Linked DNA regions of Homo sapiens. The protein of the gene in region 3 interacts with the protein of the main gene of each other region in a pairwise test. Each region holds a gene or a part of one and is shown on either strand. Other genes may lie near its edges.

Region 1 (3,410 bases), on a different chromosome or scaffold from region 3:
GAAGAAGCAATATCATTAAAATTGCCAAACTGCCCAAAACAATCTACAGATTCAACACTATTCTATCAAATTGCCAACATCATTTTTCACAGAATTAGAAAAAAAACTTATAAAATTCATCTGGAACCACAAAAGCACCTGAATAGCCAAAGCAATCCTAAGCAAAAGGAACAAAGCCAAAGGCCTCACAGTATCCAACTTCAAACTATGCTACAGGGCTTACAGTAACCAAAACAGCATGGTACTGGTACAGAACAGGCACATAGACCAATGGAGCAGAATAGAGAGCTCAGAAATAATGCCATGTACCTGCAGCCAACTGATGTTCAACAAAATTGGCAAAAATATGCAGTGGGGAAAGTACTCCCTATTCAATAAATGGTGCTGGGGAAACTGGCTAACTGTATGCAGAAGGATGAAACCAGACCCCTGCCTATCACCACATACAAAAATCAACTCATAATGGATTAAAGATGTAAATGTAAGACCTCAAACTATAAGGATCCTCGAAGAAAACCTAGGAAATACAATATTCACAAAGTTGTGCAACTATCAACACAATTCATGTTTAGAATATTCTCATCAGCTCCCAAAAGAAACCCTCATCCATGCACAGCCACTCCTAATTTCCTCTTGTTCCCAACCCCCAGCTCTAGGCAGCCCCTAATCTACTTTGATGTCTGTAGGCCTTTTCTGGACATTTCATGTAAATGCAGTCAGACCACTTGGGGCCTTCTGTGACTGGTTTCTTTTCACTTAGCATAATGTTTTGTTTGTTTGTTTTTTGGAGATGGAATCTCGCTCTATCGCCCAGGCTGGAGTACAGTGGGGCGATCTTGGCTCACTGCAACCACTGCCTCGCAGGTTCAAGGGATTCTCCTGCCTCAGCCTCCCGCGTAGCTGGAATTACAGGCATGAGCCACCACGCCTGGCTAATTTTTCTATTTTTAGTAGAGATGGAGTTTCACCATGTTGGCCAGGCTGGTCTCAAACTCCTGACCTTGAGTGATCCACGCCCACCTCAGCCTCCCAAAGGGCTGGGATTACAGGACTGGGTCACCACACCCGGCAGCATAATGTTTTCAAAAAGATTATCTATATTGTAGCATCTGTCAGTACTTCATTCTTTTTTATTGCTAAATAATATTCGATTCCATGGACATACCACATTTTATTTATCCACACATCTGTTGATGGACATTTGGGCTGTTTCCACTTTTTGGCTCTTAGAAGAATTCTGCTATGAAATTCATGTACAAATTTTTGTGTGGATATAGTTTCATTTCTCTTGGATTTATGCCTGGAAGTGGAATTGCCAGGTCATGTGGTTATAACAGTGTGTTTAACATTTTGATGAACTGCCAGACTGTTTTCCAAAGCAGCCGCATCATTTACATTCTCAACAGCAATGCATGCGGGTTCTAGTTTTTCCACATCCTTGACAACAGTGGCAGTTATCTGCTTTTTTGATTGTAGCCATCCTCGGAGAGGGGCGTGAGGTGATAATCTCATTGTGCTTTTGAGTTGCATTTCCCTGGTGATTAATGGTGTGGAGCATCATTTCATGTGCTTACTGGCTATTTTTATATTGTTTTTGGAGAAGTAATCTGTTCATATTCTTCTCTCATTTATAATTAATTTGTCTTGTTGTTGAGTTTCAACAGTTCTTTGTATAACCTAGATACAAATCCCTTATCAGATATATGCTTTCCACATTTTTTTATTCTGAGGATTGTTTTTTCACTTGATGGTGTCCTTGGAAGCACAAAAGACTTCCAAATTTTGATGCAATCCCATGCCAAGTTCAGGTGGTAACCCCGAGTGCAGGGCTTTTCCACTCCAGTGCTTGCTTTTGAGCCTGGGACCCTTAGCTCTTGGCATTCTAATGGCTAATGTTGTCTTCTTTATTGCCGTTTCTCATTTTTTCCTGCAGGGATGGTTGCAGAAGAGTACAATGCCTTTTTCTACTCACTGGTATCCCAGGACACACAGGAAATGGCTTACTCAACCAAGCGGCAGAGATTCTTGGTAGATCAAGGTTATAGCTTCAAGGTACATATCCATTTGGCTTCTGGTTAGACTAGGACCAAGGCCTTCTTGATACCCTGGCCTCCAGGAGAAGCGAGGGCCACTGTCAGCAGGCAGGCACCAAGCATTAGGAGATTAGAGGCCTTGCCTCAAACTCCCTTTATCTCTGCATGAATCTCTGAGGGCAGCTGTTGGTGGAAAGTGTGCCGTCCTGGCAGGACTGAGGTGCCATGGCACTATGACCAGCACTGTGTGAATCTGAGCCCCGCAGGGCTGCTTTCTCAGGGATGCCTCTCTAGGTAGCTAGGAGAGCTCTTCCTTTCATCAGCTGGTAAGCTCCAGGCCTTAGTTTGCCTCAGTTTGCCTCCCAGACATCAGAGCTATCCTGTACTACAAATCAGGTATTTTAATAATTGGGAAATTCTAAAGCTTTGGCTAACTTTCACTGGCTGAGGCATTTGCTTTCTTTCCTGTTACACAAATATTACGTTTATGTCAGTATTTGGTGTCCAGAGGGCTTTATATTTTGGGGATAGATGGAGGGTTCTAGAAGTAGGGGAATTAAATTCCCCCTATGGTCCACTAAAAGGACATCCCTAGAACATTAGACTCCCAGGTTCTTGATTGCAAAAGACTGCAATCCAGGCTGCCTTTTGAGATACGTTTTTAATGTGTCTCTTTATGCATTGGTGAGAGTTCCCATTATTGGCCTTAGGAGGACAGGGTTGTCTGACCTTCCCTCTTTTAGCTAGAGGCAGTGACACTTCAGACCTCTCATGCTGGCCTAGAGGACAAGATGCTTGGGTTTTGAGCCCAGTTTTTTGGAGGATTTGCATCATGACCTTTTTATCCATCCATGAAAATCCCTGTTGGTAATAGCATTCCTACCTCCTGATTCCTGCCGAGCTGTGAGGGTAAGAGGAGCACCAGGTCAGAAAGAGCAATTCTTTGAAAGGTGACCTCGACAAAAAGGCACAATGCCATGCCGTAGTAGTTTGTGTTGGTTGGAGCTGTGTCTTCGGTGCTGCCTGTTGAGGAGCAGTGGTTGGAGTTCCCAGAGTCATGACGTGGAGTGGCTGGGCCTGGGCAGATGTGCACATCGTCTGTACTCTGGATCCCTGGCCCAGAAGGACTCAGATCCTTACTTCTAGGAATTTTCATTTAATGAACATTATGAGAATTGGAGGGAAGGAGAATTCCCTTTACAGAATCAACCCAAGTTTTCTGCAGGGATAGGGAGCCCTTGTAGTAAGTTATCCCCATAGAAATGAAAACCCAGTCTCCACCATGCTGTTCTTACTCTCTCAGAGAAGCTCTATAAATAATCTTCCTGATATCCTATCATTTTCATTTTCACGTGCTCATTCCTGCTGGAAGCCCCA
Region 2 (3,500 bases), on a different chromosome or scaffold from region 3:
GTTTCTAATAATGCAATACTAGGAAATGTCTCCATTAAGAAGTATTTAGATGATATAGAAGTATTTCAAGTCTGTCCAGGTAGAAAATATTCCAGAATTAAGTATATGTGCTAGTTGCTTTCAATTAAAAGTTATAATCAGCTTAGAGAAAGCCTATAGTTAAAATGGCTTAGTTTTTTTTTGTTTTTTGTTTTTTTGTTTTTTGTTTTGTTTTGTTTTGTTTTGTTTTGTTTTTGAGACAGACTCTCACTCTGTCACCCAGGCTGGAGTGCAGTCTTGGCTCACTGCAACCTCCGCCTCCTGGGTTCAAGCGATTCTCCTGCCTCGCCTCCCGAGTATTTGGGATTACAGGCGGCCACTGCCATGCCTGGCTAATTTTTTTTGTATTTTTAGTAGAGATGGGGTTTCGCCATGTTGGTCAGGCTGGTCTTGAACTCCTCACCTCAGGTGATCCACCTGCCTCAGCCTCCCAAACTGCTGGGATTACAGGTGTGAGCCGCCGCGCCTGGCAAAATTTTTTAACATATTAATTTTTTTGTTTGTTTTTTTGAGATTGAGTCTCACTCTGTCGCCCAGGCTGGAGTGCAGTGGCACAATCTTGGCTCACCGCAACCTCTGCCTCCCGGGTTCAAGTGATTCTCCTGCCTCACCCTCCTGAGTAGCTGGGACTACGGGCGTGCGCCACCACGCCAGGCTAATTTTTGTATTTTTAGTAGAGACAGGGTTTCACTACCTTGGCTAGGCTGGTCTTGAACTCCTGACCTCGTGATCCACCTGCCTCAGCCTCCCAAAATGCTGGGATTACAGGCGTGAGCCACTGTGCCTGGCCTTAACATATTAATATTTAAGATAAAATGGATATGCAAAGAATTTTCTTTATTTCACTATATATATCTGTGCACACTAATTTTCAGTATAAGACTGGCTGATGATTTTCTTGGTACTTTAAAGCAACTTATGATTTTAACACACTTCTCTAAAATTACCATCTTAGCTTTGAGAAGAGAGACCATTATCACAATGTCAAGGTTGTAAATCAAGTTTAGTGTTAGAATGTCTACATCTGCTGTCTCCTCGGGGTTCAGCTTAGTACGTCTCCAAGGTCACAGTTGAGTCTACTGAGGGCTCTGTGTTCCTGAGGGAGCAGATCTCGAGGGCCACCAAGGAAGAGTTCCATTGAGTTTAGAATCCCCTGTTCCTTGCCAGTCCAGAGAACTCCCTCTAAAACGACAGTTCAGAGTCAGCCCGGGAGTTAGGTCTCACGAATCTCACCTCGTGTTAGCCGTGCTAGGATCAAGGCTTGCTCTTGAGGTAGAGGAAGTGGTACAAAGCAAATATTTGAATCCTTCCTGGTGGAATTTCCTCACTTGGCAATAAGAATCTGCAACAGGGAACTATAATTTCAGTTTCCTGTTATGACATAGCACAGATGCCTGAGCAAAGAGGGGCAGCCTTTTAGTTGAGGATGTTCAGCTAGGCCAAAGCTCACAGATGCCAGGGTTAGAAGGATGGCCCCCTTCATTCTCCTTAGAATGTAGTTATTCGTTCAATCAACAGATAATGCCTGCTGTGTGCCAAGCACTGATCTAAGCTTTGGGGACACAGTGGTAACACAGTCATAGATGAGGAAACAAACTCCAAAAGGATCAAGACTTATCTAAGATCACAGAGCTATGAAAACCAGAAGTCACTAAGCTCACAACAAAAGACTACACATTTTTTCCTAAGGGCAAATGTTTCATTTTGTTGTTAGTTATAGTGCCTTCAAGTTTACATTATAGATCTTTCTGAGGACATTGTGTAACTTTTAATCACGTCCATATGAGTGGCAAATTTGCCTGTATTTTGTATTAAGAACTACATGTAGGCGGGGCACGGTGGCTCATGCCTGTAATCCCAGCACTTTGGGAGGCTGAGGCGGGTGGATCATGAGGTCAGGAGCTCAAGGCCAGCCTGGCCAAGATGGTGAAACCCCGTCTCTACTAAAAATACAAAAAATTAGCCGGGCGCAGTGGCAGGTGCCTGTAATCCCAGCTACTCAGGAGGCTGAGGCAGGAGAATCGCTTGAACTTGGAGGGTGGAGGTTGCAGTGAGCTGAGATCACGCCACTGCACTCCAGCCTGGGTGACAGAGTGAGACTCTGTCTCAAAAAAAAAAAAAAAGGGAACTACATGTGAATTTCTGGTTATGTGCTATTACAGTTAGATTTATGGTGTATTGCGAATTTATCAGGAAGCAGGCTTAACTTAAACTTCTTTCTCTAGGCTGGGTGTGGTAGCTCATACCCGTAATCCCAGCACTTTGGGAGGCAAGATGGGAGGATTGCTTGAGCCTAGGAATTCGAGACCAGTGCAGGCAACACAGGGAGGCCCCCATCTCTACAAAACCAAAAAATTCACCTGACGTGGTGGTGTGTGCCCATTGTCTCAGCTACTTAGGAGGCTGAGGTTGGGATAATCACTTGAGCCTCAGAGGTTAAGGCTGTGGTGAGCTGTGATTGTGCCATTGAACTGCAGCCTGGACAACAGAGCAAGACTGTCTCAAAAATTAAAAAAGTAAAAAAACATCAACTCCTTTCTCTAGCGTGGACTATCCCTATAATCAGACAGGAGCATCTTTATTAAAGGGATTCTTAAGGTAATGTCAAAAGATAACTGATGGTACTGCAGTTGAGAACTAAGACAGGAAGTATGGTGTCAGAAAAGGCTGTCTCACATCTGGTCCTAGCATTGCCATGTGATCTTGGGTAAGTCATTTAAATTTTCTAGACCAGATTCCTTTTCTGGAAGAACTAAGGGTGTTGGAATAATTTCTGTAAGAGCTCTTCTGGTGGCCGGGCATGGTGGCTCACGCCTGTAATCCCAACACTTTAGGAGGCTGAGGTGGGTGGATCACCTGAGGTCAGGAGTTCGAGACCAGCCTGGCCAACATGGTGAACCCCCATCCCTACTAAAAATACAAAAATTAGTTGGGCGTGGTGGCGGGCACCTGTAATCCCAGATACTCGGGAGGCTGAGGCAGGAGAATCACTTGAACTGCAGGAGGTAGAGGATGCAGTGAGCTGAGATCACGCCACTGCACTCCAGCCTGGGCAACAAGACTGAGACTGTCTCAAAAAAAAAAAAAAAAGAGTGCTTCTGATTCTGTGATTGTAGTATTTCACCAAATTGTTTTCTGTAGTTGGACTATATACTGACAAAATAGCCAGTTTCCTTGGCTTTCTTCTTTAAAATATTGTTGGTATAGCTAGATGAGACTCTACATTTAGTTCTGATGTAAACATGAATTCTTGACGTGAAATATCACATGCTTTTATTTCAGGATTAACCTCCATTTCAGCTAATCATGGGAGAGATTAAAGTCTCTCCTGATTATAACTGGTTTAGAGGTACAGTTCCCCTTAAAAAGGTATGTATGGTTTTACTATACCTCTTATTTGCAAAATCTTGTATTGTTTTTGTGTGTGATTTAGATGTCATGTCTTAGTAGTGTTTGAGAGT
Region 3 (3,733 bases):
AGGGTGGAGACGGTGGAGATGGTGGGATGTTGGGTGGAGGAGGATCATGGAAATGGAGGTCCCTCTTTTTTTCTCATTAGAATTTATTTATTTATTTATTTTAAGAACTTGTTTTTTAAAAAATGTTTATTATTAAAGGCAATAAAACAATACATGTTCATTGTAGAAAAATTAGAAAATGAAAGAAAAAAGTTACTCATAATCCCTCTTCTGTGAATAACTGCTATTATTATTTGTCCTTTTAGCTTTTTTAGCACATCTAATATGCATATAATGATATATTTAATATATCTTTTTATGTTACAAACGTGGTGTCATACTATACATACTGTTTTGTCATCTGTTTTCATTTACTGATATATTATGAACATATATATATTTGGGATTTATACAGTGAGCCACTGTGCCCAGCTAATATTATCACTATGTGTGTGTGTGTGTGTGACCGAGTCTTGCTCTGGAGTGCAGTGGTGCAGTCATGGCTCACTGCAGCCTCGACCTCTTGGGCACAAATGATTTTCCCACCTCAGCCTCCCTCATAGCTGGGACTATCAGTGTGTGCCACCATGCCCAGCTAATTTTTTATTTTTATCATTGTTTTTAGAGGTTGCATGGCATTGCATTGAATGGATGTGTCATATTTAGCCAATCTCATAATGTTGGATGTTTACATTTTCATTTCTAAAACAATGCTGTAATAAACATCCATTCTTGTACACATTTGTTGAATTGAATTAATGAATGAGAGAATGAACACACCATACCTCATTTTCAGATTATTTTTTAGGAGTAATTTCTCAAGTGGAATTACTGGGTGTCAACCTAAAAAAGACTCAATCTAAAGAAGGCTCAGTATCCAGTTAGCAGAGTTTATTCAAGTGCAAAGTAACCATCAGGAGACAGAGGGAAACCAAAGAATGGTGATCACTGCCCCTGGTGTTGGGAGGGGGACAGTGAATATCAAAACAGAGGCACTGAATAAATTTACATTTTCCATACAAAGGCTAACATACTGATTTAAAGGCCGAGCACGGTGGCTCACACCTGTAATCCCAGCACTTTGGGAACCCAAGGCAGGTGGATCACTTGAGGTCAGCAGTTCGAGACCAGCCTGCACAACATGGTGAAACCCTGTCTCCACTAAAAATACAAAAATTAGCTGGGCATGGTGGCATGCACCAGTAGTCCTAGCTGCTCAGGAGACTGAGGCAGGAGAATCGCTTGAACCCGGGAGGCGAAGGTTGCAGTGAGCCGAGGTCGCACTACTGCACTCCAGCCTGGCAACAGAGCAAGACTCCGTCTTAAAAAAAAAAAAAAAAAAAAAAGTGCACAAATCAAAAATGTGCAGATCAATCAGCTCAATGATTTTTTAAAAAGGAAACATATTTTGTAACCACCTTCAGATCAAGAAATGGAAATTTCCACTCCCCAGAAGTCTTCCTCATGTGCCTTCTTGTTTACTATCCCCAAAGGGGATCCACTCTCCAGACTTCTAGGACTATAGGTTAGTTTTACCTGTTTTTGAACTTTCAGTAGATCATTCACACTATACCCTTCTGTGTTTTGCTTCTTTCACTCAATATGAGATTTATCCATTTTTGTATATTGACATACTGAGTGGCTGTTATAAATTCACTTAGTACTTCTAAGCTATCTACAGATTATTTGGGTTTTTGTGTAAATAAGCATGTCACCTATGAATAATAATCTTTCATTTCCCCGATCTTTATTCTTTCCTTTCACTTCTTTTTCGTGCCTTGAGTTACTGTCTACTACATTTAGAACATTGTTGAATAGAAGTGGTTATAATGAGCAGCATTTTCTCCCACCTTAGACATATATCCAACAGAAATGCATACATATGTGAATCAAAAGACCTGCACAAGAATGTTATGTGACCGAAACACAGGTTCAGTTGCTCAACGCTTTGCAGAGTTCAATTAACAAGAGCGAGGTCTGGTATAAAGAAAGTGGTTTTATTCTAAAGATTAGCTTAGGGGAAGAGGTACAGGCTCCTCCTGCCCTTAACGGTACCGCCTCACTTTTGGGGCAGAAAGCAGAGGCTTTTAAATGGGGACTTTGTATGAATGGCATGCAGGGAAGGAGCAAGCAGATGGGGGTCTATATGACTCATTTTGATGCGTTTTCTACCAAGTGGTTGAGCTGGTGCCATTGAGGGCAGAACTAGGTTGTAATGTGGCCGTTGTCTTGAGATGCTGTCCGGGTGGAAGAGTTCTGTTGAAGGCATACTTTATGTTGTAAATTGACTGTTGTCTCTTAAGGCAATCTCCTGGTGGGAGAAAGTTCTGGTTCTAGACCCTCTAAGTAGGTAGATAAGTTTGCCCTGTAGGGACTATCTGGTGAAGGGAAGGTAATGGTTATAATTACATTTCTAAAGAGCTAAGTAGAGGCAGGGCACAGTGGCTCACACCTGTAACCACAGCACTTTGGGAGGCTGAGGCAGGCGGATCACCGGAGGTCAGGAGATCAAGACCAGCCTGGCCAACATGATGAAACCCTGTCTCTACTGAAAATACAAAAATTAGCCAGGCGTGGTGGCAGGTGCCTGTAATCCTAGTTACTAGGGAGCCTTAGGTAGGAGAATCGCTTGAACCCAGGAGGCCGAGGTTGCAGTGAGTCGAGATCACACCACTGCACTCCAGCCCGGGCAACAAGAGTGAAACTCCATCTTAAAAAAAATAAAAATAAAGAGCTAAGTAGGAAGTGGGAGACAGGAGAAAAAGGGGGAAAATCTTAAAAATAATTCATTCTCTTTCTCTTAGAAAAATGCTCTTTTTCTTAGAAAACTCAGTCTCTGTTACACGTTTACAGTTATAGCAACATTAGTCACAATAGGCAACACGGAAACAATCCAAATGTCCATGGAAAACTGTTTGGCCTTGTTTATGAAAGCTGAATATCCACATACCCTGTGATCCAGACTTAAAAAACAACAACAACAACAACAAAAAAAACTTCATGTGTACATACATGGTGTAATGCAAAGAGAAATGTTAATGAGAGTTTAAATCACTACAAACTTTGGGGAGGATAGTTTTGCAATATGTATCAAAGACCTTAAAAAAATACCCATTGACCCAGCAATTCCTGTTTTAGGAGTATATTCTACAGAAGCAATCAGATACGTAAAAATGTAATTGTATTAGTGGTTTCAAAAGCTTTTTAAACGGAGGACTAAGTTATGCGTCCAAACATCAAAATTTTAGAATCTCCACTAAAATGCTCTTGTGAAAGGATATTATGATGTGTCAAAATGCCTCACAAGTAGATCAATCAATTTTAAAAAGCAGATTACCTAACGTCATGTATGGTGTGACACCAATATTAAGAAAAGCTATAAAAATTAGCCGGGCGTGGTGGTGGGCGCCTGTAGTCCCAGCTACTCGGGAGGCTGAGGCAGGAGAATGGCCTGAACCTGGGAGGCGGAGCTTGCAGTGAGCGGAGATCGCGCCACTGCACTCCAGCCTGGGCAACAGAGCGAGACTCCGTTTCAAAAAAAGAAAAAAAAGAAAAAGAAAAGCTATAAAGCAGCAAGGGGAGGGGAAAGATAGGAAGTACACACACCCTAATGTTAACAGTGATAGGATTAGTTTTAATTAAATTTGTATTAATTGGCAACAAATTTCACGGCACAAAATACAGACAGTATAAGGGATGTGCAGCAGAGTGATCTCTTCTTCCCCTTTCCCCAAGACCCCGCCCCAGGGGCAGT

The links.
Region 1: the proteins of TRIM14 (region 3) and ERCC3 interact in binary tests that used the Homo sapiens proteins (3 or more experiments, as listed by UniProt).
Region 2: the proteins of TRIM14 (region 3) and SPG21 interact in binary tests that used the Homo sapiens proteins (3 or more experiments, as listed by UniProt).

What each region holds. Positions count from the first base shown.
Region 1 is NC_000002.12:127,259,870-127,263,279, reverse strand, and holds part of ERCC3 (general transcription and DNA repair factor IIH helicase/translocase subunit XPB), read left to right. Parts: intron 1-1,933; coding exon 1,934-2,052; intron 2,053-3,410. UniProt on the Homo sapiens protein: ATP-dependent 3'-5' DNA helicase/translocase. Binds dsDNA rather than ssDNA, unzipping it in a translocase rather than classical helicase activity. Component of the general transcription and DNA repair factor IIH (TFIIH) core complex.
Region 2 is NC_000015.10:64,983,415-64,986,914, reverse strand, and holds part of SPG21 (maspardin), read left to right. Parts: intron 1-3,321; 5' UTR 3,322-3,345; coding exon 3,346-3,408; intron 3,409-3,500. UniProt on the Homo sapiens protein: May play a role as a negative regulatory factor in CD4-dependent T-cell activation.
Region 3 is NC_000009.12:98,088,153-98,091,885, reverse strand, and holds part of TRIM14 (tripartite motif-containing protein 14), read left to right. Parts: intron 1-3,733.